Linked DNA regions of Homo sapiens: regions 1, 2 and 4 are each linked to region 3. Evidence: fine-mapped expression QTL. A gene starts in region 3. Each other region holds a variant in brackets. All regions are shown on one strand. Distances are from middle to middle.

Region 1 (8,025 bases), 48 kb before region 3:
TATATATATATATATATATATTTTTTTTTTTTTTCGAGATGGAGTCTTGCTCTGTCGCCCAGGCTGGAGTGCAGTGGCACGATCTCAGCTCACTGCAAACTCTGCCTTCTGGGTTCACGCCATTCTCCTGCCTCAGCCTCCCGAGTAGCTGGGACTACAGGTGCCTGCCACCACGCCCAGCTATTTTTTTTGCATTTTTAATAGAGATGGGGTTTCACCGTGTTATCCAGGATGGTCTCCATCTCCTGACCTCGTGATCTGCCTGCCTCGGCCTCCCAAAGTGCTGGGATTAACAGGTATGAGCCACCGCGCTTGGCCAATTCATATTTTTCAAGAAAAATTAAAGAAGTAGTTGAAAATGGTATTGAGAACTATCACATGAGGATGTATCAATAGCAATATACAGGCCAATTTGAATTTAAAGATATCTGAAGAGCAAGCTACAAAAAGGACAATTTTATAAATGCCACAGAAGTTCATTTCTAGTGTTTGTCAGAATTTGTCATTTGAAACAAATAATGTATTATATTTGTTATCCAGCTGCTTTTTGGATCTCTAAAGTGAAGGACTCTAAAACTAGTACTTTTTGTTCCCAAACTTTTTCCTTTTCTAGCAAAGGACACAATCTATAAGATAAAGCATCAGAAGAGTTTTCAACCAAAAAGTTTATGAAAAAATTAGCATTATACTTCTAATGCCATGAGAAAACCATACTACTTGGAGGCCAAAACGGAAAGGCTTGACATTATTATTCTATTTTTATTGTTTTTATCTTCCAAAAATGTCTTGAAAAGAGAAACAAGTGAGGGTGAGGCATAGAGAAGTTATCTAGACATAAGCTGAAATTAGAAAAGTAGAAAAAATTAACAATGTGAATAATTATGAAATATGAGGGAAAATGAAGACTGCAGCTAAAAAGGATTTATCATATTATACAATTAAACATTCAGTCACAAGTTTTCATAGACAATGAACTTTGTGCAGAGCTCTGTAGGAGCATAGATGTTGAAAGCAATTCTTATAAACTTGGCATTCTAGGATTTGCAAAGCCTTGAGATTTAAAAGTTTTACATTATATAATCGTATGTCAATATAATAATAATTTCCAATTTGTTCCTTGAAAACACCAGAGCAACCATTTATTTTCCATTGTACCTGTCTATTAAAAAGCAAGGCATGGTATAGGCATTCAATATATTATTTTGGTTATTTTATTCAGATATCAGAAAATACAAATTTAAGTGGTTACATATTAAATATTGCTAGTAAATCTAAAAGTGAGAGTTAGAACCTATCATGTATGCATAATTCTACTAAACCTTTCTATTATTTATATATTATTTGTATATTAAAATAAATAATTGCTATCTAAAAAGTTAAATTGGTAGAAAGGTTCAGAAGGTAAAATTGTCCAAAAGGTTTATTCCTCCCTACTACATTACATTTAGCAACTAAAAATGGATATTTTAATATATACCTAGATTAGCCACTATGTGGCACCAAGGAAGCACCATATACTCAGTTCCCAGAACTTGTTAGAGAACCAACAGTAGAAAGAATAAGACATGTTAATTTTACAATTCTTATCTCTAACTTACATTTTTAAAATATATATCAAATGTAATTGGTGATTTTTATTCTTCACTCAAATTTCAAAAATCAAATAAAACATGACATATATAACCTAATATATCTTTGAGACTCAAATTTTCTAAAGACAGAGAAAAAAACTAGACTGAAATTATAAGCATATCCATAAGTTCACTCAAAGATTTTCTGAAAATACTATAATTCCTTGGTTACATCTAATATTTAGCATTTACTTCAGAGTAACTAATTACAAGAAAGCATTTCAATATACTTAGAATTTAATCTCTTGTGGCTAGCAATCTCAGACCACAGCAAACTGATTACCTGAAATGCCAACTGCTGGAATCAAGTGATGAACTGAAGTTTTCTGAGTTCTGTAGCAATCTGCTACACTATAATGCATAGTATGTTTGTGATATAAGAAACATAATAAAATACTCCATGTTACTACAAAATAAAGTTAAAGAAAGATAACTTACCCACACAGTTTTATGATATCATATGCAGATTCTATAAAACGAGGCTGGTTTTTTATTTTTCCTGAACACAGATTCAGAATTTTAAATATCTGTGCTAAATCCCTTAATGGCTTTAATATTTTTAGTTAAGAAATAAAATTCAGATTAATATCTTTATTAACATATTCTTTATAGTATTTCTGTGAAGAAAGTCTATAGAATTCCAACTATTTTGCCAAATGTGGTAGATACTGTTTTAATTATTCTTATTTTGAAGTCTAAAAAAGGAAATTTAGAACCATATTTTTAAAAAAACCATTTCATTTTTGCCTCAGTAAATGCCTACTCAAAATTTTTTTCCTCTCACAACTTTAGAATTGGATTACCAACTGCTACAACACAGATTCAGTTGATCAATAACTTCCCACTGGCAATGAGTAATAGCACATTGAAAACATTAACTTACTGATTAGGCTCAATTATACCCTTCATCTTCACCCCCTACCCCTGCCCACACAAACATATGCTGTCTCAGAATAAGCAACCTAAACATTACTTTACTCCACTATTTTATTAATATTAAACTGAGATGCATTTTCCTGTGTTTAAGGCTTAAATTGGTTAGGATTTTATCTGAAACTAATATGAAAGCAAAATATGGACTTTCTAGATATTCAGATAAAAGCATCTTTTATTTTATCTATTTAAAAATCCTGCTGGCTCACGCCTGTAATCCCAGCACTTTGGGAGTCCGAGGCAGGTGGATCACGAGGTCAGGAGTTCGAGACCAGCCTGACCAACATGGTAAAACCCCGTCTCTACTAAAAATACAAAATTCGCTGGGCGTGGTGGTGCCTGTAATCCCAGCTATTCAGGAGGCTGAGGCAGGAGAATCGCTTGAAGCCGGGAGGCGGAGATTGCAGTGAGCTGAGATCATGCCATTGCACTGCAGCCTGAGTGACACAGTGAGATTCTGTCTCAAAAAAAAAAAAAAATCCTATTGGCACATAAACACATTTCATTGATTTTGTTTTACAGCTAAGAAATTATGGTAGATGTGACTTACACTTCTTGGTTGAATCTTATTACTCCTAGCCTTTTTCTAGGACCTTTTAGGAAAAGATGGGAGAGCAGGGTACACTGGAAATAGAAAGCTCTGTTAACTTCCTAGAGAAGTGACCAAGATACTTCTCTAACTTTGCTAAGTTTTACAACTTCTATAGCCAGCCTATGAGAGGGATTTAGAAATAGAGCCAATTGCCACCAACGGTTTAACATGAAGAAAAAAAAAATGGAGGTGTTGAGATGTCAGGTTAAAATAGGAAAAGAAATCCCTGCTAGTAGACATTTTCAGCTACCAGTAAATAGGGCTTGATATACACAAGCCCTAAGATGGAACAGGTCCAAATAAAACCAAGGCTAAAACATAATAAAAGATTTAGATTAAATTATAAGAAACATTTTCCTGAATGGAAGTCTTAAGAGGTTTTGAACTGGAATGAGCTAATATTAGAGCTTGATAACTTTTCTTTTTTTCTTTTTTTTAGAGACAGGATCTCACTCAGTCACCCATACCCAGGTTGGAGTACAGTGGCACAAACATAGCTCACTGCAGCCTCGAATTTCTGGGCTCAAACGACCCTTCCACCTCAGCCTCAGCCTCTGGAGAAGATAAAACTACAGGTGTGCATCGCCATACATGGCTATTTTTTTTTTTAGAGATGGGGTCTTGCTATGTTGCCCAGGCTGGTTTCAAACTCCTGGCCTCAAATGATCCTCCTGCCTCAGACTCCTAGGGTGCTGAGA[T/C]TACAGGCATGAGCCACAATGCACGGGCTTGATAACTTCTTTAGACCAAGTCAGACAACTGTTCAAGATCATTTTCAGGGTGTTCAGTCTTTTGGATTCCCTGGCCCACACTGGAAGAAGAAGAATTGTCTTGGGTCACACATAAAATACTCAAACACTAATGATAGCTGATGAACTAAAAAAAATTATCAAAAAAATCATAATGTTGTAAGGAGTTTACAAATTTGTGTTGGGCTGCATTCCAAGCCATCCTGGGCAGCATGCAGCCCACAGGTTGAGGGTTGGACAAGCTTGATTTAGATGAATACTATTCAAAGTGTGGTCTATGGACCACTGTCAGTTCTGGAAGTATATTTACTAGTCTGTGACAAAATGAATACATAAAGTGAGAGTGGACATATAAAAACTTTTATAACAATCTAATATTTGTGGGATACTTTTATTGTATTTTACAATAGCATATATATGTAAATGTTAAAAAAAAATGGCCAGCTGTGGTGGCTCACACCTGTAATCCCAGCACTTTGGGAGGCCGAGGCGAGAGGATTGTTTCAGCTGAGGAATTTGAGACCAACCTGGACAACATAATGAGACTCCACAAAAAAATAAAGAATTAACTGGGTGTGGTGGGTGCATTCCTGTAGTCCCAGCTACTTGGGAGGCTGAGGTGAGAGGATCGCTTAAGCCCAGGAGTTTGAAGTTGCAGTGAGCTATGACTGCCCCGCTATACTCCAGTCTGGGCAACTAAGGCTGGATGGAGACTCTGTGTCAAAAACAAACAAACAAACAAACAAACAAACACCCCAAAACAAAACAAAACAAACTGGTTCTTATCCAAAGGTAGTGTTTGTTTGTTTGTTTTTGAGACAGGGTCTCACTCAGTTGTTCACACTGGAGTATAGTGTCAAAATCTTTGATCACTGTAACCTTGAATTCCTGGGTTTCAGCAATCCTCCTGTCTTAGCCTTCCCAGTAGCTAGGAATATGGGCACACACCACCACACCTGGCTATTTGTTTTTTTGTAGAGGCAGGGTCTTGGTATGTTGACCAGTCTGGTCTTGAACTCCTAGCCTCAAGCAATCCTCCTGTCTTGGCCTCCCAAAGTGCTGGGATTATAGGTGTAAGCCATCACACCTGGCTTTTACGTACAGATAGTTTTAAGACACACTGGTTTTCATGTATTCTGGTCAGGGTCGTATATTTAGTAGGGATAATATATTTATATAATATTTTGCAGATTATCAAGCACTTGGATGTACATGATCTCATCTAATCTTGCTAACAACCTCATGAGCTTCTATTACTTTACAAGGGTGGAGAGCTTATCAAAGGTACAACTGCCCATGTAAATTAATAGAAATAATGACTTTGACTTGGCCCTCTAACTACATCCATTGTCTTTCTGAATCGACAAAAACTGACATTATCCACAGTTACTTGTGTTATATTGTTTCTTCAATTTTATTTACATTATCTGATAGAAAATACAGTCTTATAAAGAACATAAAATGTTAGATATTTTCTGTGGTAGACAGAATAATGGCCTCTCCAGTATTTCTGTGGTAGACAGATTAATGGCCTTCCCCAAGATATCTATGTCCTAATTCCTGGAACCTGTAACTATGTTACATAGCAAAGGGACTTTTCACATATGATTAGGAATTTTGAGATGAGAAAATTATACTAGATTATCCAGGTGGGCCCACCGTAATCACAGGGATCCTTATAAAGGAAAGAGGGAGGAAGGGAGGGTCAGACAGAGAAGATGATGTGACGACAGCAGCAGAGGTGAGAGTGATGCCAGTGGGGGGAAGAGGGCATGAGGCAAGGAATGTAGGAAGCCTCCAGAAGCTGGGGAAGGCAAGGAAATGATTCCTTTCTAGAGTCTTCAGGAGAAACCAGCCCTGTCAACATCTTGACTTTAGTCCACTGAGGCTGATTTTGGACTTCTAACCTCCAAAACTGTATGATAATAACTTTATGTTGTTTTAAGCCATCAAATTTATGGTAATTTGTTACAACAGCAATGGAAAACTAACACATTTTCTAAAAGAAATTCTCATTTCAGAATAAATGAAATGAACATACATATATATGTAAAGGATACAAGTCCATTCTGATAACACTGTACCAGTTTCTTGACAAATTTAAGTTGTTTTTCTTCCAAGCCATCCTAAAACAGATCACCTATTTTAGTTCTTTTGTGCTTTTAAATCTGTTGAGATTTTAAAAAATTCTTCAACATAAAAGTAGACACTTTAAAATTATCAAGTAATTCTTAAATTACTATATTATAATGTAAACGTTATAAAATGTTTTCTGAAACAGTGAAGGTAAAAATAAACTATCAGAACGACTGTATGATCTAGCAATCTCACTACTGGGTATTTATCCAAAGGAAAGGAAATCAGTGTATCAATGAGATACCTACAGTTCCATGTTTATTGCAGCACTACTCACAATAGCAAAGATACAGAATCAACTTAAGTGTCCATCAATGGATGAATGGATAAAGAAAATATGGTCTATATATACAATGGAATCCTATTAAGCCATAAAAAAGAATGAAATTCTGTCATTTGTAGCAGCATGGATGGAACTAGAAGATATTAAGTGAAATAAGCCATGTTTAGAAAGACAAATATCACACATTTTCACTCATGTGTGGAAGCTAAAAAAGTTGTTCTCATGGAGATATAGACTAGAATGATAATTACAAAAGATAGGAAGACTGTGTTAGTGAATATTTGTTAGCAAAGTAGGGTGACTAAAGTCAACAACAATGTATTGTATATTTCAAACTAGCTAGAAGAGGGGATTTGAAATGCTCCCAACACATAGAAATGATAAATGCTAGAGGTGGTAGATAGCCTAAATACTCTGACTTGATCATTACACATTTTATGCATGTAACAAAATATCACAAGTACCCCATAAACATTTACAGACATTATGTATCAAAAATAAACTATTATTTAAATTTGATTAGGAAATTGGGAATCAAAACCAGGTTAATATAAAAGCAGTAATTGTTTCCAGAAATAATATTAACAACAGCTAAAGTACATTGAATATTTTTTCTACGTCATGTACCACATGGGTACCATATATACATATCACTTCATTAATTTCCAAAATGACCCTATTAGGAAGATACTACTATGATCTCTGTTTTCCAGAATAGGAAACACAAGCTGAAACATTTTAAAGTAACGTGTCCAAAATACACAGCTAAAAAGTGGTGGTGTTAGAAGACAAATTTGGAAAGCTGACTGTAGAGATTGTATTTTTAACTTCTAAAATATGCTCAGTGTTCTGTGCAAGCCAAACATCTTAAGTCAATTAAAAATGAAAATAAGCAAGTAAAACTTCTACACAGTGATGTGTTTCCATGACTGAATTCTGTCTGTCCTTTTAATCTTAAATGTTCCTGAAAAGCTGTGATATTGTCTATACTTTTTCTCTGTAGCCTTATTAAACAGCTAATAGGCACTCTATGCAGTTGTGGTTTTTTAAGGAAATGTAGATATAGTCACAATAAAAAATAACTTTTCACAACAATGATAGCCAGAAAAAGATAAATTATTCCAATAGTCACTTTTTCTCCTTTATATGTAAAAAAGCAGAGAATAAAAAATGTTAAAACAGTGACCAAATTTTTGTGCCTCCTATTCATAGGACATTGTTTTCTTTTGATAGGCTATACTATGGTCAACCCACTTACTTAAAAATTTTTTTTTTTTTTTTATACTTTAAGTTCTGGGATACACATGCAGAATGTGAAGGTTTGTTACATAGGTATACACGTGCCATGTGGTTTGCTGCACCCATCAACCCATCATCTACATTAGGTATTTCTCCTAATGCTATCCTTCCCATAGTCCCCCATCCCCTGACAGGCCCTGGTATGTGACGTTCCCCTCCCTGTGTCCATGTGTTCTCATTGTTCACCTCCCACTTATCAGTGAGAACATGCAGTGTTTGGATTTCTGTTCCTGTGTTAGTTTGCTGAGAATTATGGTTTCCAGCTTCATCCATGTCCCTGGAAAGGACAGGAACTCATCCTTTTTTATGGCTGCATAGTATTCCATGGTGTATATGTCCACGTTTTCTTTATCCAGTCTATCATTGATGGGCATTTGTGGTCAACTCATTTTCTACTTACTAACA
Region 2 (8,025 bases), 78 kb after region 3:
CTAATTAAAAGCTTTGCCCCTGTCTAGTTGGAGGGCCTTAAGAAAGGCACTTGACATCTCTGAGACCCAATTTTCTCATCTGCAGAACAGTTTTACTAAGATGTCCTAAAGATTAAATTATATAATATATAAAGAGTCTAGCAAAGAGTAAGCCTGTAAATGATGGCTATTATTATTATTTTTACTAGTATTTGACTATCCATTAGTCCATGGATAAATGAGTCTATCTTTGGCTCAACTCTCACATTCAGATATATTCTATGCTTTCACCTGAAGTTGGGGATCCTCCATGGATTACTGGTCCTACCTCAATTATTTTTCCTGCTTGTTCTCTGCCTTATTTGTCCTTCTGCTTCCTGAGCCCCTAATTTATTCATGTGAAAAAGCAAAATTGCACAATGTAAATTCTATGAGAACAGCTTCACTCTAAGGTAAATTATAATGTCTTGTCTTATTCATGAAATGACTGAATGTTGATGGTCATGTATATCATCTACTAAAATGATAGAATGAATCCTTTAGACACTCTAGAAATAGTTTGTTCTATTTTTCTCTACTTGACTGATGATCTGTTGGGATCAGAACAGATATTCACAATATTAAAACTATAGTAAATGGTTTTGTGGTTGTAACCAATGACAAATAATTTTTTCTCTCTGAATCTGACATCCTCCACATCTACTCTCTGGGATGGAAATGTCTTTAGTGATACTGCCAAAAGAAGCATCAGAGAGAGATTAGATAGATATGACCTTTCCATGAATTTTAAGAGGAAGACTCTGATATGGTTTGACTTTGTGTCCCCACTGAAATCTCATCTTGCATTGTAATCCTCAGGTGCCAAGGGAAGAACCTGGTGGGAGGTGATTGGATCTTGGGGGTGGTTCCCCCATGCTATTCTCATGATAGTTGTCACAAGAGCTGATGGTTTTAAAGTGTGGTACTTCCTGATGCTCGCTCTCGCTCTCTTGCTTTCTGTCTCTCTCTCTCTCTCTCTCTTGCAGTCTCTCTCTCTCTCTCTGTTGCCTGCCGCATGTAAGATGTGCCTTGCTTCCCCTTCACCTTCTACCATGATTGTAAGTTTCCTGAGGCCTCCCCAGCCATGCAGAACTATGAGTCAATTAAACCTCCTTTCTTTATAAATACTCAGTCTCTGGTGGTATTCTTCATAGCAGTGTGAAAACGGACTAATACAGAGAATTGGTACCAAGGTAGTGTGGTACTGCTATAAAGATAACTTGAGAATGTGGAAGCAACTTTGGAACTGGATAACAGGCAGAGGTTGGAACAGTTTGGAAGGCTCAGATGAAGACAAGAGGATAAATGAAAGTTTGGAACTTCCTAGAGACTTGTTGAATTGTTTTGACCAAAATGCTAATAGTGATATAGACAATGAAGTCCAGGCTGAGATGGTCTCAGATGTAAATGAGGAACCTATTGGGAGCTGGAGTAAAGGTCACTCTTACTATGCTTTAGCAAAGAGACTGGCAGCATTTTTCACCTGCTCCGGAGATCTGTGGAACTTTGAACTTAAGAGAGATGATTTAGGGTATCTGGCAGAAGAAATTTCTAAGCAGCAAAGCATTCAAGAGGTAATCTGGTTGATTCTGAAAGCGTTCAGTTACATGCGCTCACAAAGAGATGGTTTGAAATTGGAACTTATATTTAAAAGGGAAGCAGAGCATAAAGATTTGGAAAATGTACAGCCTGACTATGTGGTAGAAATTTTTCTGGGAAGAAATTCAAGCCAGCTGCAGAAATTTGCATAAGTAACAAGGAGCCAAATGTTAATCACCAAGACAATGGGGGAAATGTCTCCAGGGCCTTTCAGAGATCTTCAAAGTAGCCCCTCCCATCACAGGCCCAAAGGCCTAAGAGGGAAAATGTCCTCAGGGCCCTGGGCCCTGCTGCTCTGTGCAGCCTTGGGACATGGTGTCCTGCATCCCAGCCACTCCAGCTCCAGCTGTGGCTAAGAGGGGCCAAGGTACAGCTCAGACCATTGCTTCAGAGAATGCAAGCCCCAAAACCTTGGCAGCTTCCACATGATGTTTGGCCTGTGAGTATTCAGAATACAAGAGTTGAGCTTTCAGAACCTCCATCTGGATTTCAGAGAATGTGTGGAAAAGCCTGGATGTCCAGGCAGAAGTCTGCAAGAGGGGTGGAGCCCTTATTGAGAACCTCTGTTAGGCAGTGCAGAAGGGAAATGTGGGGTTGGAGTGCCCATACAGAGTCTCCACTGAGGTACTGCCTTGTGGAGCTGTGAGAAAAGGGCTACCATCCTCCAGACCCCAGAAAGGTAGATCCACCAACAGCTTGCACCTTGCACCTGAAAAAGCCACAGACATTCATTGCCATCCCATGAAAGCAGCTGGAGGGGCTGTACCCTGCTAAGCCACAGGGGTGGAGCTGCCCAAGGCCATGGGAACCCACGCCTTGCATCAGCATGCCCTGGGTGTGAGACATGGAGTCAAAGGAGATCATTTTGGAGCTTTAAGATTTAATGACTGCCCGGCTGGGTTTTAGATTTTCATGTGGCCTGTGGGCCCTTTGTTTTGGCCAATTTCTCCTATTTGGATGGGAATACTTACCCAATGCCTGTATTGCTACTGTATCTTTTTTTTTTCTTTTGGAGATGGAGTCTCCCTCTGTCACCCAGGCTGGAGTGCACTGGTGCGATCTCGGTTCACTGCAACCTCTAACTCCCACATTCAAGCAGTTCTCCTGCCTCAGCCTCCTAAGTAGCTGGGACTATAAGCGCCAGCCACCACACCCAGCTAATTTTTGTATCTTTAGTAGAGATGGGGTTTCACCATGTTGGGTAGGCTAGTCTTGAACTCCTGACCTCAGGTGATCCACCTGCCTTAGCCTCCCAAAGTGCTGGGATTACAGGTGTGAGCCACTGCACCTGGCCCCCTATTGTATCTTGGAAGTAACTAACTTGCTTTTTATTTTACAGACTCATAGGTAGAAGGAACTTGCCTTGTCTTAGATGAGACTCTGGACTTGGACTTTCAGGTTGATACTGGAATGAGTTAAGACTTTAAGACTGTTGGGAAGGAATGGTTGGTTTTGAAACTTGAAAGGGACATGAAATTTTGGAGGGGCCAGGGGTGAAATAATATGGTTTGTCTCTGTGTCCCCACCAAAATCTCATTTCAAATTGTAATCCTCAGGTGTCAAGGGAGGAACCTGGTGGGAAGTGATTGGATCATGGAGGTGGTTTCCCCCATGCTGTTCTCACGATAGTGAGTGAGTTCTCATGAGAGCTGATGGTTTTAAAGTGTGGCACTTCCTGGTTTGTTCTCTCTCTCTCTCTCTCTCTCT[CTG/G]TCTCACCTGCTGCTATGTAAGATGTGCCTTGTCTTCCACCATAATTGTGAATTTCCTGAGGCCCCCCCCAGCCATGCAGAACTGTGAGTCAATTAAACCTCCTTTCTTTATAAATTACCCAGTCTCTGGTGGTATTCTTTATATCAGTGTGAAAACAGACTAATACAGACTCCTTCCCTGGACACTAGAACCATGATGGCATTAGGGATGGAGTTATTAATGCATAATAGCAGAAAGCTCTTTACCTCAACATTATAAAGATAATAAAGGTATAGTTAACAATGATTGTACACACATTGTAGATTCCATTACAGTATTAAATTGAGCAATAGTGTTTGCAGCAAACTATGGGCATTTTTCTTTAATTTCCCCTCCCATTAAATTATTCTTTAATTTCTCCTCCCATTAAAGGAGAGGGTGGTCTCTTTTCAGGTAAGGATTGCTCATCTCTTTCTTCTTCATGCCTCATGCCGTGCATGCCCCATGCAGGTGTAAGCTAGATGGCATTCTGTATGTCAGGACCATTTTTCATTACTGCAAAATACTCTAAGTTTTAAAGAAAAGAATTTCTATCCTATGCATTGCTATAAGGCTTTTTATTCCAACATATGGTATTAAATAGGAGTTATGTGCTCAATTGTGAATTTATATGAAAAGGAGGTTAGGATACAACAGGCATAGAGGAAACATCATGTGAAGACACAGGGAGAAAACGCTTATCTGCAAATCAAGAGGAAAGATCCCAGAAGAAACTAACCCTGCTGATAGATACCTTGATCTCCGACACCTGTCTGTGGTACTTGGTGATGGCGCCCTAGCAAACTAATATAATTGTGATGAAACACAGAGGCCCAAGAGTGGCCTTTGTGTTTCATTTCAGTGCTCTATGTTCTGGCCAATTGTCTGTCACCTTCCTTTGTGCGTGAATGAGTCCCCTGTGGGCAAAAGCAGAGGCCACCCGTGGGGGCATACCTAGATGGGCGGCAGGCAGACAACCACTATCTGTCATCTACCCAACCACCACTTATGTCCTTTTCCCTCCATATCCCTCCTCTTTCACCATCCCTCCCCTCCTACTCACCTTCTTCAGGTAGCAGGAGTGGGAGGTAGGAAAAAGCAACAGACTTATTAATGTTAAAGATCCAAGCTGCAAACCTTTGCCTCTGCTTAGCTTTTTGGTTTCAGACTCTTTCTCTAGGCAAAATTTTCTCAAAATTGTCTGCTACAGGAATTCAGAGAAACATTTAAAACTCTAAAAGTAGACCGATACCACCACCTTCCCCATCCTCCACCCAACCAGGCTGTGACAGTAGGTAAAATCTGTATACCGACACCAATTCCCTTGATGGCATTTGGATCCATTTCCAATTGAGAAGCAGTCATCTATCCTTTTTCATTAGCTTCGCCTTCACTGGTGAGAAGTTAGTGGGAAGTAAAGACTCTGGAGGCCTGGAGTTGTTGGGTTTTAAAATTTTATGCCTGGAGGGTAAGTCCACTCTAGTAAATGCGAAGTTATTTTTAAACTTAAAGCCATGGAATACAACTACATTATAGTAACCAGCTATTTTGCAGTATAACCTACATTCATTCGTGTATTGTTTGTATGAATGCTCTGTTTCCAGCATAATGGCTTTTAAAAATTAAAAATATAAATTAGCTATTATTAGAGAAACAGCACAATAGTAAAACTCCCATAAATTGGCATTAGAAAATATTAATAATAGACTCTAGAGGGGACAGACAGTCTCTAAAGAATAAACAAATCATTGAGTAGAGAACACAAATCCCATCCAACAAGTTAGTGCTCTATGCTGATCTTCAAACAATGGGTTCCTGGGTCTTAGCAAAAGCAACAAAAACAACTCACCACTAACCGAGTGCTTACTGAATCTCATATGCTTTATATGTATTACTTTATTTTTTTCTTCCAAATGTCACTTTTGAAGAAGATACCTTTAATATTTCCACTTTACAGATGATGAAATTTTAAAATGTTATATAAATTGCCCAGCTAGTAAATGGTAGAGCAGAGATTCAAACCCAGCCTTAATATATATACTATTATTTTGATCCCCAGAGCACTCAATATAGTGTTGGGTACTTTTAAAAGAATTAAGAAAATGTTGAGCCATATGGGGGATGATTCAGCCATATTGTAGGGACAGAAAACAGTAAAAGTGACCCAAATACCCTATCTTTAAAATTTTTCTATGTTTTAACCATTTATTTTCCACATTATTCTTTTGTGCAATGTTTGCTGAGCATCTACTATCTTCCAGGTACTGTGTCGGGTGGAAAACAGGAATAAATAATATACAAACCTTTTTATTAAGTAATTCAGAGTTCAATGAAAGACTTCAAAGGAAAACAGATCATTTTTAAGTGATCGAACTATGTGACAGGTGGAGTGGCATTAGCAGATCACAGAGGGGATGGTCAGGACTGGCTGCTGGCAGGAGGGGACTTCTGAGCAGGTGAGAGGCAGGGGTGTGCGAGGAAGACAGGTAAGACCTTAACAGGCAAGGGTACAGTGTGAGCACTGGCAGGAAAAAGAGTTGCTGGAAATTTCCAGCAGTTCATTGTTGCTGAAGCAGAACGTGTGATGCCGGGTGGGTCCCTGATCGTGGAGTGGAGGAGGGATGCAAAGCATGGAGACCCTTTTAAGGCACCAGACGAGGGAGAGAGATTGAACAAATAGGAGAGGTGGGTGGGTGAGGGAGAGAAGAGCCACTGAGATAATCACAACTCAAACAAAACTAAAACAAATGTAGTGCATGTCCTTGAGTTCTCTTGCTTTCTCCCATTTTCCATGAAAACGTGCAAACTAGCACCTTAACACTTTTTGTAATTTCATGACAAATGCTATCATATTTCATAGTCAGCACATGGCACTAAGTATACATAAAATGAACATTTTGCACACTGTCACTTTTTTTTTTTTCTCTTGAGACAGTCTTACTCTGTTGCCCACGCTGCAGTGCAGTGGCGCCATCGTGTCTCTCTGCATCCTGGGCTCCAGCGATCCTTCTGCCTCAGCTTCCCGAGTAGCTGGGACCACAGGCGCCTACCTCCTACTTATTTTAAAAGAGTTCAGTCCAGGTTCTACTGTTCCCAAGGGACTTTTCTCCATACTAGGAACTCTAAAATCTGACAATGGTCTGGATCCGTGAGATAGGAAAGGCATCTTATAGGTACCGGGTCCTGTCTTCTGCCAGGGTCTACTGTGCTATAGTCTCAGAGGGATTTCATTAGGGGATCCCAGTAAGGTTGTAAAATGAATAAGGTCTTGGTGGCACCATCTCTGTGTAGTGAGGAAAACTTATGTAAAACTGGAATGGGTGAAGGGGTGAAACTAGGAAGGTGTCATAGCTGTTAGAGGAGGGGGAGCAGGATTGGGTGGGTAAAGCCTTCAGCCCGTTGACATCTATGAAAGAGGAAGAAAGCAGGAGAGCCTTCAGTTGCAAAGGACGGCTGACCAGGGCTTGGCTTGCTCAGTGAGCAGCTTCAGAGCAAAGATTGCCTGATGAAGCAGTTCAGCATTGGGCCAAAACAGCCAGGCCCTACAGTACCCTTCTCATCTGGTTTGGCTCTGTCCCCACCCAAAATCTCATCTTGAATTGTAATCCCCATAATCCCCACATGTCAAGGGAGAGACCAGGTGGATGTAATTGAATCATGGGGGTGTTTTCTCCCATGCTGTTCTCGTGGTAGTGAGTTCTCACGAGAGCTGATGATTTTGTAAGTGTTTGGTAGTTTCTCCTGTGTTCATTTCTCCTTCCTGCCACCTTGGGAAGAAGGTGGCTTGCTTCTCCTTCACCTTCTGCCATGATTGTAAGTTTCCTCAGGCCTCCCCAGCCATGCTGAACTGTGAGTCAATTAAACCTCTTACCTTTGTAAATTACCCAGTCTTGGGTATTTCCTTATAGCAATGTGAGAACAGACTAGTATATCTTCCTTGCTCGGTCATTGGCTGGGGGTTACCCAGGAAGAATGTGACCCAGAGTGAATGCCATGCAGATGCTGATGGCGCTACAGTTGAAGGCTGTCAGTTACCTGTGCTCCCTGCAGCTGGACAGCAGGTTCTCAGAGGAATACCCTAAAGGTGGTGTATTTTGTGGCTGCCACACCATCCTTGTTAAAGAAATAACTCTTGTATATGATCTCCATTGTATTTCTTAGGTCTGTATGAAGCTGTGTAAACAGTCTTGCTCTTTTCAATAGCTGAGGTGCTTTTTAAATAAAATTCATAGGTTCTTGGATATGATTCAATCCAGTATATTCTGTGAACTGGCTTTGCAGCTTCATCTGAATAATCTCAATATTTACATATGAGTTATATGTATCTCTTGGAAGAAAATTTTAAAAGTAAAAGCCATTATCTATATGTGCTCAAAGGATATGAAAGAATTTTAACCTCAGAAAAGCACAATAAGTAAGTCAATATCTATTTTAATCTCAGGCAAGCATACTAAAGAAGTCAGTAGCTGCAAAAGCTCCTCAAAAAATTATTCTAAGTCAAATATAAATAATCTTATTTGCTCTTTTGGATTATGAATACATCATAGCTTTTTTATTAACATCCAATTCAAAGTTGGCCTATTGTCTGGTGGTATTAAAATGGATCACATGTGTAGCTCTTAATAATGCACATTGACATGGAACACTTGGCTTGATCCTCATAATTCTATGAGGTAGGTA
Region 3 (8,025 bases):
TTGAACCAGGGAGCCAAGATCGCGCCACTGGACTCCAGCCTGGGCAACAGAGTGAGACTCAGCCTCAAAACAAAAACAAAAACAAACAAAAACAAAAAACAACTATGTCATTTATAGAAAGTTTTGTCTTCATAGTGTAGGGGTGAAAGAGCAGGCCTAAGCTTCTGCAATCACTTTGATTCTCTGAGTCTCAATTTCCTTTGTTAAACAGCAAACAAATAGGTTATACTTGACTCTGGTGGTAGTTTCCAACACTAAATAAGTCTTGAAGCTGTGTAATAATGGTAATATCACCACCCTATATTTAACACTTCAACTTCGGGAGCTCAATCTAAAAGTCTGTGTCAATGACATCGTTTTCTTGAATGGGCATTTGACTTGCTGTACACATTTAATACTTGAGAATGTATTATTTTGATAGGGAATTCAGTTACATTCAGCTGGACAGCCTCTTAAGGTTTTCAGTTTAGAAGGATTTCCTGAACATTCCTGAAGCTGAATGGCACCTGTTGTGCTATGTTACTTTTGAAAAATAGAACCTAATTTGTTTCACACATAAATAGGGCATTTATTATTGGATGACAGCAACTCTGAAAGGGCTGTCCACAGAGGTTTTGATGACATTTCACAACCTGCAGATTTGGAGAGGCTATCAAGAAAACATAATTCTCCAGGGCCATGAGGTGGGGTGGTGTAATCTTCACTTTGTAAGCCCACATCTGAACATCTCTTCTTCATTGTCTCTCCTGCAAACACCCAGCTCCTTTGAAGCTCATGGTACTTCACCATACCCTCTCCCTGTCCTTACTGCTGTCCTCACTGCTGTCCTCTACTGACTTCTAGTTTATTCCTTATGACTGCAGACTCTGGCTCCCAGTATATACATGGTCATCCTCTCTACCCTAATAGCTATCATGTTTTTCCTGGACTTTATCATTCAAGTGGATGAACCATTCAACTTCAGGGGCTCTTATTTCCTTGACTTACTCATTGGAGACAATGAATTTTTGCCTCTACCCCACCTCAGTCACTCACTGCCTGAAATCTCCAAGCACTGTCTCCAGGACTTCCAATAATCTTAGTTTAAATATTCACACTGATAATTCTAAACAGCAAAAGAAATCTGATCCGTTGACCTCTACCTCTCTAATTGCTTAATATCCTGCACTCTCCTTCAGCCTGCTCTGGTTTCTCTTTAAACCGAGGCTAGATTTGTAGTCACTCCCTTAAAAAGATCCTCAGCTCTCTTACTCTCCATCATATCTGCTTGGCAAAACTCTAGTCCTGGACCCAGCTATCCATTTTCTCTGTATCTGTATCCACGTTGGTGAAGGTTGCTGGAGAAAAACCAGAAAACTGAGCTCATTAGTTTCACCTTAAATTAACAATCACCAATTTTACCTATCAAAGACCAGTCTATCCACTTATGTCCTGGAGAGCCTCCCTTTTTGCTTCCCAAGGGGATATGGTTATGACCTCTTTCTGTGACATCTCAAACTTCACAGGTTCAAACCTGAACTTTTTCCACCCAGAGCTGGTCCCATTCGCCTGGAAATGTGTAAATGCCACCATTATCCACCAGTTGCTCCAATCAGAAAATTGGGAGTCATTCTTAAGTCCTTGCTGACCCTCACTTTTGACATAAAATCCTGCACCAATTCCTGTTCTCCAACATATTTCATAAATCCCTCTCCACCAATACCAGGCTAGTCCAGGTGTCTATCATCTCACCTGAACTCTGCAAACATTTCCTAATGGGTCAGCCTACTTTCTCTTTTGACCCTTTCCAAACATCTCCACAGCAGCTAAAATCATCTTAAAATGTAAATCGTCATAAAATGTCTCTCCTTAAAATCGGTGCTCCTTGTACTTAGAACTACAGCCATCTTCCTGACTATCACGTAAAAGGTCCTGAATGAGTTAGTCCCCGCTTCCCCTCTCTAACCTTATCTGTATATTGTCCACCCACAGCATTCTCTTCTAGAAAGAGAAAACAACAACCACTTTATGTACCTTGGGAGCTTTCCATATACTGTTCCATCTCTATAGCAGAATAATTCACTCAGCCCTTGTTAAATTTATTTTGTAATATTTTATATAATTGTTTCTTTACTGTTTACTATTTCCCCCATTGGACAATAAACTGCACGAGGGAAGAACCATGTTTGTCTTGTCCGTGATCACTGCCTCCACATTGGCTGGCAGTGTAACTAAGGATGCAATAAAAATTCTTTGTTATGGAATACATCAAAAAAATTCAGGACAAAAAGACATGTAATAATTCTCTAGATCAGATTTCTCTTTTTGCTGAAAACACATGTGGGCCCTTAAGGGGTAGGTGATTTATCAATGTTATTGTTATGTTAATGTCTCAGTTACCTCAATGTCCTGGTTTCTGGCCCAGCAGGGATAAATACATCTCCTGATGTCCTATGTCCTTTATCACGCCTGCAGTCTTACTCTTTCACATTTTTGGTGTATCTTCTTTCTCACTTTTCTAACTCATTTACAATCCTTTCTTTAAAAATTTGTCTTCACCTGTCCTGTTTTTTCAGTACTAAAATACAACTATGTTCATTCACCACATTTTCCATAGCACCAGTACAATAAAAAGTGACTTGGATAAAGCTTTTCATTTCCTTACTGCACAATTTGCTCAAGTTGTCATTCTCAATATTGTCTCATTTCCCCATACCCTGACAGAGTGACTAGCTAAGAGGCAGAGAGTGCAGCCATCCCAATGGCAGCACACATAGTTACTCTTTATGTTTCTAAACATCCTGCAAATTATTTAGGACGGGTGTTTTGTTTTGTTTTGTTTTGCTTTTCCATTAAATAGCCTCTAAGCTTTGAAGCAACCAAGAGAGAATCGGAGTAAAAAAATTATAGGGTTAAAGAAAGAAAAAATAAACAGATCAATAAAATGAAGAAATAATAAAGTGGAGAAAAGGAAGGATGGGGAGGTGGTTTAGAAAACAAAAAGGGTTCCAAGCAGCGGGGCTGTTAAAAGGACCAGAATCTAAGTCAGGAGGTTGGGGGTGGGGGTGGGGGTGGGGCAGGAGTCTGAATTCTTTTTCTCCTATACTGATGAGCGATAATTAACTATGGCCTGGACTGTCTTTCCATCTAAAAAACTAACTGCCCGAGGAGTAAAAACTGACACCAATCCTTCTCCACGGGGTGGGAGAGATAATAAATGGAAATCTTCCAACAAAAATGCTCTTTATCTCTCTGCTCTATTTTAAGAGCAAGATTTTTAGGGCATAATTTTCAACAAGTTTTGGCTGAGGCTGAACACAGGGTTCAAAGATAATTTAGGACAGTCAAAGAAGAGGCCAATTACTTTCTAACAGAAATGGCCTAAACACCACGATTACATTACTGGGAAATAAACCAAATGACTGCTAGAAATACCTGTTCGCAAAGCAGCACTGCATGATCTTCCATGAAATGCCCTGCATCAACCCAAAGTAGCAGGGAGACTATCAAGGGGGCGAAAGTAACCTGCCTGTCCTTTCCTGCTGGGACACATCCTACCTGGGACAATGTCTCCTTGCCTTCTTTCTCCTGGGCCCAACCTCAGGACTTGCCCTTAGCTCTAGGAACCAAGAGGAGGAGGAGGGGGAATCAGTGGAACAGACACCCTTCTCCACCCTTCTCACTTTCCACCTTAAGGTGCCAGGAGATGAGGGACCCCGCAGCTCAGGGCGGACGCCCGGTGAGGGCGCAGAATCGGGGAGGATGGATGCAGCGCGTGGCGCAGACTGCATCTTGACCCTCAACTCCGCCGCCGCTACCTTCTTTCGCGCTCCTCCCCGACCCGCTCACCTCCGCGCCCCCCGCGCCCTCCACGCCGGGCAGGGGCGAGCCTTGCAGCTCCCCGGGAGCGGCGCCGACTCCCCAAGGGCCCACCCGGGGGCCAGGGCCTACGGACTGCACCTCCGACTGGCGGTTGCAGGGTGGCTGCCGCGGCGGTCGCACTCCAGCTGCTTCCCCGCCTACCCAAGCTGGATCGCGAACAGCCAGGGGAGAAGGAAGGAGGGAGGCGCGCGGAGGCCGGCTTGGCAGCGACGCGCCGCTAGGGGCTGCGTGCCCGGACAGCTCGTGGCGCCGAGGGCCCGAGGAACGCTGACTGGAGTCGGGAAGAGCCGTGGAGCGCGGGGAGGAGTCGGGGAGCTCGGAGGGGGCGGGGGTGTGTGAAGGGAGCCGGGCTGTGTGGAGGGAGCTGGGAAGGGCCCAGAGCACCGAGGGGGAGCCAGCAGTGAGTGCACTGGGGAGCTCCACACACGCGGCTCCGCAGCTTTGCGCGCCCTTCTACCGCGAGCGGCTGAGTATCCGCCTGGCTCCCCTGCGGGGTTCCTCCGTGGTCTTCCGGAGATTCTTTCTGAAGCAGCTTTAGAATAGTCAAGCCTATTTTTCTACTCCATTTCTTTTTGTAATGTGGGGTCACCTTTCCGCTCTAGAAATTGCTTTTCTTACGCGATTCCCACCCCAACTCTCGCCAAGGGCCCTGGTTCTCATCTCCCCAGTCTTAGCTTCTGACAAGCCTCCAAGAAACTGCGCTTTTTTCTTTTGTAAGTGTTCTTTTGCCTCATGTTTACCCTATCCCAAACGTCTTTTGACTAGACTGTGTCCTTGGAATAAAATGTTCGGAAATGCCCTTTCATGAAAACTCCCTCGGATAGGAGGACCCTCACAGACCCTGGACTGCAGAGATTATTCTGTTGACTTTGACCTTCACTCTAGCTGGTGCCGCGCGAGCTTTGGTGTGGGGGAAAGGAAGGTTAGGCCGTGAGTCAGGAGACCTGTGTTCCTGCGAAAGCCATTTACCTTCTGGGGCCGCAATGGCTTTGAATGTTTCAGGGGATCCCCTGAGAGCACCTTTGGCTCTGGGTTTCTGTAAATTTTCTCCCTGCGGATTACCAAGTAAAAGTACCTTTTATCTTTTGTGTAGAAGGTGTCAGTAGAAGAAGCAAGAGATCTTTATTCCCAAATATAAAATCAACTTACCAAAAATTCTCAAATTTGGGGAAATTTTTTTCATACATTAGTAAAGTACCATTTCAACAAATTAAGTTTAAAAATTATCCCTCTAGGTGGTTTATTAACCAGACCAAAAAAACCCAACAACAACAACAACGAGAGGGGGGTCTTAGATCGATCACTGGGGCACTGCACTTTCCCCTTTGTAGTCCATACACAGATTAACCTTTGTAAATGCTGCTTTGGAAATACATCCTTTGTTTGACTTGAAATGTAACCCCTCCCCTACCGCCAAATATTATTAAGGTTTAAAGTTTAGGCAGAAGCTAAGGTTTTAACGATGTGTCAGGGTGTGGAACCATCGACAGCTGGTAGAATACTTTCCATTTTGGTTACTGGAAACAAGTCATTAAATCTAATATCAATTTTAATAATTTCACTTCAACAAAACTGTCAAATAATGAGATTCGTGGAGTTTTTTCTAGTAGTTCCTCTGGAGAACTTGTGGAGAAAATTCATGAATCTTAGCAGTTAACGGAAAGTATATTGCTTTTCCATATATTTTAAAAAACTATAGAATTATATAACTTCCCCACGGGGATATTAAAAGAAATTGCACTTTCTAACTTCTATAACCATAAATTATCATGTAAAACATGTAGGTAAGCCATATATTTTAAATATGTTTAAAAGCTCTCTTAACATGGGCTTTGACTATTGAGAAAATAGATAAAGTAATGTGAAATCCCTTTTCCTAAATGAGAATCAGTGAGTCAACAATTTGCAGCTTCCAAAAGGGATATCTCTTTTTCATGCTTGAACTATTAAAATAAACAAATATCTTTGATGGGAAATCTAATGTTACCAAATGTGTTCCAGAAGACTGTTGGTGTTAATGCAAAGCATGATTCCTTTAACTTCCATGGTAACTAATTTTATCATTGTTTTTCAGCTGGAGATGCAGAGTATGAAAATGATTTTGCAAGACTTTTCCAGGTCATGAGGTGCTCTCTGAGAAATCTCTTCTGTTCCCTAAAGTAGTAAGTGACTCAACTGAAGCGAAGCAATAATTATTAAATGGATCTCTAGTGGCCTAGGGGCATTAACACATTTTTTTCCTTTGAAGTTATTATACAATTAAATAACTTTAGAGTGGTAGTTCCCAAAATGTGTGACTTTAGGCACTAGTTTGCCTAAATGCTGCTCTAGCAAGTCATTCACTTCAAAAATATTGAGCCACTTCTATATGCCCTGGCTGGCACTCTAGGAACAGTGGTGAAGAAGACAGATATATTTACCTGTCCTGATAGAAGTTACAGTTTGGTGAAAACGATAAATTAGTAACAAGTGCAAATAAGATTTATGCAGATTTATTTACACAAAATAAATGTAAGTCGTGATGTAAATAGTAGATTTTGAGATAAACAATAAGAGAAATCTCTTCATTTTAGAGATCCACAATGTATGTTAATAAATTAAAGGCTCTGAAAATTCCTATGGTAAAAACATTTTACCTAACCTATTCCCCAAACCCCCAAATTTGTTTTGAACAAATTTGTTTGTAAGCAGTGCTTATAATAAAATAGAATAATTTTTGTGAAATGCTGCTTTGTTTTAAAACCAAAGAATTCAATAAACATGAAATTCTGTTAACATCACCTTACATTTATTTGTCAATGTACATTAATATACATCAATAGATTTATACATGTAAATATAATCTGAAGTAGACTGTGTTTGCACATGTTTATACCAGCGCAATTCACAATTGCAAAAAATATGGAACCAGCCTAAATGTCCATCAACCAACGAGTGGATAAAGAAAATATAGTATATATATACCACAGAATACTACTCAGCCATAAAAAGGAACAAAATAATGGCATTCTCAGCAACCTGGATGGAATTAGAGATGATTATTCTAAGTGAAATAACTCAGAGTGGAAAACCAAACATATGTTCTCATTCATAAGCTGGAGCTAAGCTATGAGGACACAAAGGCATCAGAATGATATAGTGGAGTCTGGGGGCTCCAGGGGGAAGTGGGGTGAGGGGTAAAATACTACGTATTGAGTACAGTGTACACTGCTCTGGTGATGGGTACACCAAAATCTCAGAAATTACTGCAAAAGAATTTGTTCATGTCACAAAAAGCCACCTGTTCCTCAGAAACTATTGAAATAAAAAATAAATTGTTTAAGTATGATTAAAAAAAGAAATACGCTGTGTTTGAACACAAAATGATACACAAGGATTTATAAATCTATTAAAATGCTTGAATGTACATCTGTACAAAACACATATTTATAATTAACATTATTTCATAAACATATTTCCAGAGATCAACATGTTCTAAAGTCTTATAATTCTTAATGGCTATATAGTTTATATATTGGTATAGACTAGTTTTTCCTTCCTTCCTTCCTTCCTTCCTTCCTTCCTTCCTTCCTTCCTTCCTTCCTTCCTTCCTTCCTTCCCTCCCTCCCTCCCTCCCTCCCTCCCTCCCTCCCTCCCTTCCTTCCTTCCTTCCTTCCTTCCTTTCTCTTTTTTTTCAGGGTCTGAATCTGTAATCCAGGCTAGAGTGCAGTGGCATGGTCAAGGCTCACTGCAGCCTCAACCTCCTGAGCTCAAGTGAGTCTCCTGCCTCAGCCTCCCAGAAGCTGGACTACAGGCAGGCACACGCCACCACACCCAGCTAATTATTTATTACTTGTAGAGAGGGGATCTCCCTAGGTTGCCCAGGCTGGTCTTAAATGCCTAGGCTCAAGTGATCTTCCCACATCACCCATCCCTCTCACAGTGTGCTGGGATTACATGTGTGAGCCACTGTGTTTGGCCTAGAATAGTTTTCTTAACCCTAAATTTTAGGAAAGTACATTTTCTGATTCTTTAACTATTATAAGTAACACTGCTTTAACCTCCTTGAACAAATTACTCTTTGGAGTAATAAGTGATGGGAATATTTTCTTGGGATATATTTTTTAATGTGGGTTTTTTAATTAAAAGAAATTTTATTTTTTCTGTTTACATAGTCTCATATTT
Region 4 (8,025 bases), 26 kb before region 3:
TTTCTAGGAAACCTTTACATCCTTTGCTGTGTTGGGTGCAACCTTGTCTGTCATTCCGTTTTTGTACTCATCACATACTTAATGGTATCAACTGGTTCAGCAATTGGACCCCTTCCTACTGTACTGAGATTCTTGAGAGTCACTTTGATATGCACCCCAGACCCTCAGCATACTGTCTAGAGCAGTAGTTTTCAAAACCTAATGTGTATCAGAATCGTCTGGAGAAATAGTTAAAACAGAATCTCAAGCCCTACCTGCAGAGTCTCTGCTTCAGTAAGTCTGGGTGAGGCCCAAGGATATGTGCTTTTAACCAGTTCCCAAACAATGTTGATGCTATTGGTCTGGAGAACATACTTTGGGACTTCCTGGTCCATATCATACTAGTCACTCAAAAAATGTTCATTAAAAGATTTCAAGGATTATAAATTACTTTTTATTTTGATTTGAAGCCAAATTAAAGCATTTTGTAAGTTATCCAAAGTAAGGTAAATACTCCAGGTCCTTGCTACTCAAAATGGGGTCCTTGGGCTACTTGCACTGGCATTACTAGGGACTCTGTTAGGAATGGAGACTCTCTTGCCGCCTGGTGGACCTACTGACTCAGAATCTCCATTCTGAGATTCTGATCTCTCAAGATCCTCAGCCTCACATCAAAATTTGAGAAGCACTGCTCATGTGTGTGAGTGTGTGTGTGTGTGTGTGTATGTTTATGTGTGTTGTCATTATTATTGCTTTGGAGTAGTTTTAACAGCATCCATAAAACTGGTTTTCACTAATTATTCCATTCGTGGATTTTCCAAGTCCTTTGTTCCCAAATAATAGTGGGTTTACTTTTCTTCTTGGTAAGTGCACAAAGATTAAGCTTCATAAAAGCTTTAACTTTATATTTGGTATGTTGACTTAATTTTAATCATTATTTAGTGATTCTTCTGTTATGACACAAAAACACAGAAGGGTGAAAGGGTGAAATGACTACTGAAGGAGTAAATTATTTCAGCAAAAAGATAAATAGCAGAGAAACATGGGAAATGAGTTATACCTACAGAATAGAAATGCTTGAATGTGGTAACAATTCTACAGAATTTAATATCTCTGTTAAGTTACAAATTGCAATTTCTTAGTAGCACCTGTAGACTTAAAGATTAACTAGTAGTTTTAATAATATATTGACTTACAAGTTTTACTTTTAAAAGTAACAAAGAAAGCTAAAAATGTTTTAAAATAAATATATTGCAAATTGTGGTTCTATTTTCCTTCTGACTTTTTCTTGTTTGTACTCTGCCTAATTAGCAATGTTTAGTAAAATTATAATTATTTCTAATCATATGAATAATTATATATTCTTGAATTAAGAATATGTCTAATAAGTATTTGAGACTATATATGAATTTTATAGTCTCTAATGCCAGATGTTCTAAATGTGCAAGCAAATGTTATTCCTTTCTGAATTAGAGTAATTTATTTTAAATAAAGAATGTTTATAGCACATATGAAATCTAGTCATAGTTTTTAGTAGGTTAGCTTTAGGGAAATTCTGTAAGAGAAGAAATGCATACAAAACCAGAATTTATTATACTTAATTTTTTTTTTTTTTGAGACAGGGTCTCACTCTGTCACCCAGGCTGGGGTGCAGTGGCGTGATCTCTGCTCACTGCAGCCCTGACCTCCCTGGGCTCAGGTGATCCTCCCACCTCCCACCTTAGCCTCACGAGCAGCTGGAACTACAAGTGTGTGCCACCGTGTCTGGCTAATTTTTGTTGTTTTTTGTAGAGATGGGGTTTCACCATATTGCCCAGGTTGGTCTTGAACTCCTGGGTTCAAACGATCTGCCCACTTTGGCCTCCCAAAGTGCTAGGATCACAGGCGTGAGCCACCGCTCCCAGCCTATACTTCACTGTTTTAAAAAACTTTTTCAGGTTGACAGCACAGAAACAAAGCCTAAAAACAAAACAAAAGTAATTACCTCTTTCCAACAGAATCATTAATGTACATTTGGGAAGAATAAGCACGTGGAACAGAAAACGAAAGTAAAAGAATAGTCACCCCTGAAGACAACCATTCTAATGAAAAGTATACTAACAATAACCCAAACTGCAAGTGATTTTTAAGTAGGAAGCTGCAGGAACTACTCGTGTTTAGTGGAAAAGTAAACAAATTGAAAGTAAAAAAAATTAAAAGAAGAATTTATAAAGCGCTTTTACCCAAAGCTTCAGTTCCATGACATGGGAATAATTATATGAAAAAAAAATGTTCCCGAGATTTTAGAACAACTATTTATTGTGTTTAAATGGTGGGTAGTTATAGTGCAATAACCCCAGGATAGAACTGTCTTTGTTGTGGAGCAAGATTAATCAGACAGGTTTGTTCCAATGACATTAATTATTTGAGTTCTATATCTAAATTGACTTGTTTTGATTCTATGAACCTTGTATTAGTTTTTGAAGACTGCTGTAACAAATACCACAGACTGGGTGGCTTTAACAACAGAAATTTATTTTGTTACAGTTCTGGAGGCTAGAAGTTGAAGACTAAGGTGTTGGCAGGATTGGTTTCATCTCGAGGCATCTCTCCTTGGCATGCCGTCTTCTCCCTTTTACTTCACGTGGTCTTCCCTCTGTGCATGCCTGATTCCTAATCTCCTCTTCTTATGAGGACACCAGTCATACTGGATTAGGGCCCAACTGTATGACCTCACTTTACCTCTTTAAAGATCCTATCTCCAAATACATTCTGAGGTAGTGTGGGAGTTAGGATTTCAATGTATCAATTTTGAGGAAACACAGTTCAGCCCATAACAGATCCCAGTATCTTTTGAATTATAACTTCAATTCTTATAAACAGCAGATTCAAGAATAAAGTATGTTTAATCAAGGCACAAATGGTATTCTCGCCTACAGGACACTGATATTTCACACAGTAGTGCTGAGTTACTATTTTGATTTAACAGTGTATGACTGTACATTTGATCAATGTGAATCTGCCCCTGAGGGGTTTTTCTACTCTCAGGGGTCTCAACAAATCTGGATTTTGAGTCTGCAGGGTCCCGTGCCTGACTTTCTCAAAGTCATCATTTGTCTCTTGTTTCACTTCCCATTAGAAGAATCCACTACCAAAAGTACTGTACTAGTCTAGGTTCCCCAAGCCTGCCATAAACAAACAACACCAACACTCACCTGCTGCCACTCTATGGGGAGTACTATCTCTGAGAAACAGAAGTGAGGAAAAACATGGAAGTGAGGCAGTAGGAGAAGGGAACACAAACACAGGTGTTAGTGAGCTTGTCATAGCTTTGCAACAAGTGCAGTTAATTGCTCGGTCTTTGAGGATATTTTCATGAAGGTCTTATGAATTATTGCACTTTAGAACAGCCTATCTGGGGGAAAGGAAGGGAGAATTTATCTACTAGCTTCATTTTGTGCTGTACCTCCTTGATCAAAGTTCACTCCTTAAGTAGGGTTGCCAGATTTAGAAAAATTTTAAAAAGCCCATGCTTATAATAAAAAGTAATTTATTGTTTGTCTGCAATTCAAATTTAACTGAGAGTCCTGTATTTTACCTGACAATCCTCCTCTCAGGATATTAGCACCTAAGCATTTCCAGGCAGCAGCTGGGGAAGCCAGAACCTCCACAGACAGATCTGGTGCACAGGCACAAAGGTCAGTTACTCCTTGTCAGTGGCACAGTGTACAGGACTCCTCAACATATAGCAGTGTGGTGGTGGTGGTAGTGGCAGCAGCAGCAG[A/CAGA]AACTCTTTAGGACAACAGGGTAGCGCTAGGCCACTGGCCAGGAGGCAAGGCATGAGGAAGAGGCAAGAGGATGTAGGCATGGCTGCATGGATGCGGGATGATAAAAAACATAATTTTCTGTAAAAATGGGTAATTATTTATTATAATATCTCTTTAGTATCCATCATAGATCACATTATACTAGATACTGGGGATTTAGTAGTAAATAAGACAAAATTTCTGCTACGGGGAGTTTACAGAATAGCTTGAATATTGTGTGTGTTCTGATTTAAAGATGCTTAATGAATGCTAGTAAAATGAAATAATGTAATAAAATAAATGTAAATGGAGGTTTTTCTAAATGACTATTTTAGTAAAAACAAACAAAACCCCTCCATAACTATCACATGTATTGCTTTCTGGATGCTTCTGAAAAGAAATAACTCAGAAAAGTATTAGAAGGCCTCCATCAAATACTAGAATTATTATTTAATGAGAAAAAAATCCACGTGTATACAACATTTCAAAACAGAAGTTAAATCATTAAATAGTACTTTTTATTTAAATGTTTATAAGGCAGATCTATGAGAATGATAGAAAACATGGTGTGTAATTTGATAGCAATATTTTGGAGATTACAGAGTTTTAGTAATTACCAATTACACAGTTAAAAAGAAGATAATATATTCCAAGCAGATACAAAATATCTAATGAAAGATCAAGGCAGGAAAATGAGTATAACTAATTGACAATGGAAAATCAATTTTAATGTGAATTGCACATTATCCTTTAAAAGCTTTCAAAAGAAAGAATTATTGCAGTCTAGTTAATTCAGACAGTGTTAAATGGTATCAGGATAAAGAACTGAAGGGCAGAAAGAATTAATTTTCACTTCATGTAACACACCCAGATTTACAATGGCTTAAATGCAGGAAAAAGCAGTGGAAGTAGGGAAGTAGTCAAGGTCTTTCTGGTCTCTAATCTGCCTTACTCTTTGGGTGTGGCTTTGATCCTCTGGAGACAGCTGCCAGGGCTCCTGTTATATCCACAATCCCAGCAGCAAGATGAAGGGATGAAAAAGGACACATGCTGCCTTCCTTTGAGGAGACTTCATCTCACTGGCCAACACTCAGTCACATGTACACCTAACTGCAAGGACAGCTGAGGAATGTAATGGGCAGCCGCTTTTAAAGAAGTAGAGTCAATAGGAAGACAAATTCCAGTTCCAGCTCAGTCTGGGTATCTGCAAAGCTGCAAAAGATCTTTAAAGACAATTTCAAGAGAATATTTCCTTAAAGTTGGCAATTTGGAGATCATACAAAAGCATCTGCTTTTGTGATTTAATTTAGCTCATCTGGCCACTGGAAGAATCCAAACAGTCTGCCTTAATTTTGGATGAATGCATGATGGAAATTCAATAATTTAGAAAGTTAAAAAAAACTCAGTATGTTAGGCTGAACAAAACATTTTTTAGTAACATATGGAAAGAATCTCTGAAAATTAAGCACTGTATAATTTTCTCATACTAAAAAAAAAGTGAAGAACCCATTCATTCATGTAAAATTCACTGTTTAAAGGTAAAAACAGATTGAGTTTCCACTGAAATTATTACAGTTTCATTTAGGGCTAATCATTTGTCCTGAATGTACATCAGAATTTGTTTTACCCACTGATGAACAATTGAAGGTAGGGTGTCTCATTTCACAATATAAATCTTAACACTGTGAGGTGTGTTATACTATGTATGTATCTTGTTTTAAGTCATGGATTTACAAAATAATTTCAACACATTTTAGGCTGTTTACGTATTTCAAAACAGGGATTTCATAGACTGACACAGGAATAATTAGTTCAGTGTTCACAGTATTCCTAAATAAATATTTACTTATTACATTTATGATACTTTATTTAAAATACCACATTAGAAACTTTAAATATTTCATAAATAAATCTCTTTTTTGGGGGGAAACTGTACAGAATTTATTATGAAATAGCTTAATGGCAAGTGGTAATTTAGAAGAATTAAGTTATCAGATAGGAGATATATTAAAATATTTAAAAATTGGATATATTCTTGAAGCCCTTTTACACAAGTAATTTCTATAATTTGATTGTAATGAAAGTATAATATACCTTGTTACTATTATCAGATTAATTTTTGAAAGTAGAATTCCTTAATCAAGCCAAGGTTATGCTGCTTTATAAGAAATTAATCAGGTAGTTTAACACTAGAGCTCATTAGCCAACCTGTATGTAGCACAAAATAATCATCTCTGATAAATACCTATAAATATATTTTATTCATACTTTTAAATATTTTACAATTCAAATAAAAACCTTATATGTAGACAATCTGGGCTAAATTTCCATGTATGTTTTGAAAAATAATGTTAGCATGAATAGATTCATATTTAAATATGATTTTAAATACTCTTAATAGAGGAGACATAAGAAATATTTACATAAAAGCTAAGTAGCATGATACAGCTCATGGTTATTTTCCTCATAGGAAAACAATTACTTGATTTTTTTTTTTGCATAGGATTAAGACTGAGTATCTTTTCTACATTCTTTTAACTTTCTAAGGGGCACTTCTCAAAACACAGACCAGGTAGCAAATCTCCACTGCTCTAAGGTTCTCACCACCACTTTCTCACACCTAGCAATAGTAGAATTCAGTCCTACTTCTGAGGCCAGAAGAATGGTTCAGAAAAATAATGATTATAAAAAATAACAATTAAGAAAAATAATCACATAGAGGTAAAATAAAGCAACTAAACATCATAGTTTTGCATTTTTAGAAAAGCATTTAAACATTTAGAATTATAGTAAATATATTACATTTATTCTAAAACTTCAAAATTATTCTGTTTTTGTAGTACTGAAAAGAAGATAGTGCCATTTGAAACAACAGATGCATCTTTTATACATTTTCACAAGTTTGTTTTTCATATTTTTAAAGGCCCCATTTATCTGTAACAGTGGTATTTTTATTTAGAGTATCGGCTACTTAATATATACATGCAACAATATATGCTTTAATAGTCATTTAACTTTTAGGAATATTTCATCACATTAAGTGGTTAAGCATAGTGTTAAAAGAGTGGAATTTAAGGAATAAGAAAATATTGAAAATACGCTGTTATTTTCATTAGTTCACTATAATAGAATGTTTTTGCCCATAAAAGTTATCATTGCCCAACTGAATTCCTACCAAGAACTAACAAGTGATTCTCAAGTGGGGAGAAATATTATTAAAATAAAGAAAATAGAGGGCTCAGTTAGAAAGTACAAGATAATAGGCCGGGCGCGGTAGCTCACACCTGTAATCCCAGCACTTTGGAGGCCAAGGCGGGCGGATCACGAGGTCAGGAGATCGAGACCATCCTGGCTAACACGGTGAAACTCCGTCTCTACTAAAAATACAAAAAGAAATCAGCCGGGCATGGTGGCGGGCACCTGTAGTCCCAGCTACTCGGGAGGCTGAGGCAGGAGAATGGCGTGAACCCGGGAGGCAGAGCTTGCAGTGAGCCGAGATCGTGCCACTGCACTCCAGCCTGGGTGACAGAGCAAGACTCTGTCTTTAAAAAAAAAAAAAAAAAAAAAGAGGGTACAAGATAATAAAATTCACCAAGAGAACATTAGAAAATCATAAGTGAATTACCAAACTGACAAGGCAGTTGTAGAAAAAGAGTCACTGGTGGGAAAGGTAGCCTCTACTAAATAAAAGTCTTTTTATTGTTGGCAGTTGGATTCAGTAGTACCTACGTGGGTAAGTTTAGAAATGTTATAATTTCAGGAAGAGGAACGCATATAATTGTATCTTGCCTATAATTTTCTATTTTAATAAGGAAATAGCAAATTGGGGTGGGGGGAATGTAGGGCATTCTACAGTTTGAGCAAAATGCAATTAAATGTGGAAGGACAGCACTGAAAAATTTTATGAATAATCTGTATGATTATATGTCTCTAGAGTAGATTTATAATTAGCCACTTACCCTAATATCCTTCATGCTTGTAAAGTACTCCCTAATGAATGGTTATGCAGGCAGGAGAACTTCTCAGGAAGAGAAAAGGAGAAGACTAACTCTACAGAGATTTTTGAAAGACTCCGTGGGATCTCAGCAATTTGTTAACACTGCTAGGGCCCTTCACTGCATAGGGAGGCATATGGACTGCCATGGGTCTCCAGGCTCATGTTCCAAGCAAGAATAGGGTAAGTAACTGTGAATTACCCTACAAGCAGTAATAAGTTTATTATAATAATATTTTTATACATTTTTGGATGCACCCAACCCACTCT

Direction of the effects. Alleles are on the strand shown, and positions count from the first base shown. SD is a standard deviation of normalised expression in the study named. Not every link is listed here.
As copies of G replace CTG in region 2, the expression in skin of the gene that starts at base 4,134 in region 3 goes down (moderate effect, 0.73 SD a copy in TwinsUK).

What was found. PIP is the estimated chance that this variant, and not a neighbour inherited with it, causes the effect.
Region 1: its variant is fine-mapped to the expression of STEAP2 in skeletal muscle (GTEx, PIP 0.98).
Region 2: its variant is fine-mapped to the expression of STEAP2 in skin (TwinsUK, PIP 0.95).
Region 4: its variant is fine-mapped to the expression of STEAP2 in tibial nerve (GTEx, PIP 0.98).

The regions. Positions count from the first base shown.
Region 1 is chr7:90,256,101-90,264,125 of GRCh38, reverse strand. CFAP69 (cilia and flagella associated protein 69) reads right to left here. Exons shown (of 23, transcript NM_001039706.3): 3 at 5,963-6,028; 4 at 2,070-2,179. Among named protein-coding and RNA genes, the nearest start is that of CFAP69, 15 kb to the right of the region's middle. The variant T/C (reference allele first, on the strand shown) is at 3,855.
Region 2 is chr7:90,130,218-90,138,242 of GRCh38, reverse strand. The region is part of intron 2 of STEAP2-AS1 (STEAP2 antisense RNA 1); the gene reads left to right. Among named protein-coding and RNA genes, the nearest start is that of STEAP1, 20 kb to the left of the region's middle. The variant CTG/G (reference allele first, on the strand shown) is at 3,325.
Region 3 is chr7:90,207,849-90,215,873 of GRCh38, reverse strand. STEAP2 (STEAP2 metalloreductase) reads right to left here and starts at 4,134. Exons shown (of 6, transcript NM_001244944.2): 1 at 3,829-4,134. It overlaps STEAP2-AS1 (STEAP2 antisense RNA 1), which reads left to right and starts at 4,239. Exons shown (of 3, transcript NR_110029.2): 1 at 4,239-4,574; 2 at 5,936-6,023. RefSeq lists a silencer at 3,972-4,031.
Region 4 is chr7:90,233,850-90,241,874 of GRCh38, reverse strand. It overlaps STEAP2 (STEAP2 metalloreductase), which reads right to left. Exons shown (of 6, transcript NM_001244944.2): 6 at 4,192-8,025. LOC107986819 (a long non-coding RNA gene) reads left to right here. Exons shown (of 2, transcript XR_007060423.1): 2 at 1-4,288. Among named protein-coding and RNA genes, the nearest start is that of CFAP69, 7.3 kb to the left of the region's middle. RefSeq lists a silencer at 7,110-7,315. The variant A/CAGA (reference allele first, on the strand shown) is at 3,743.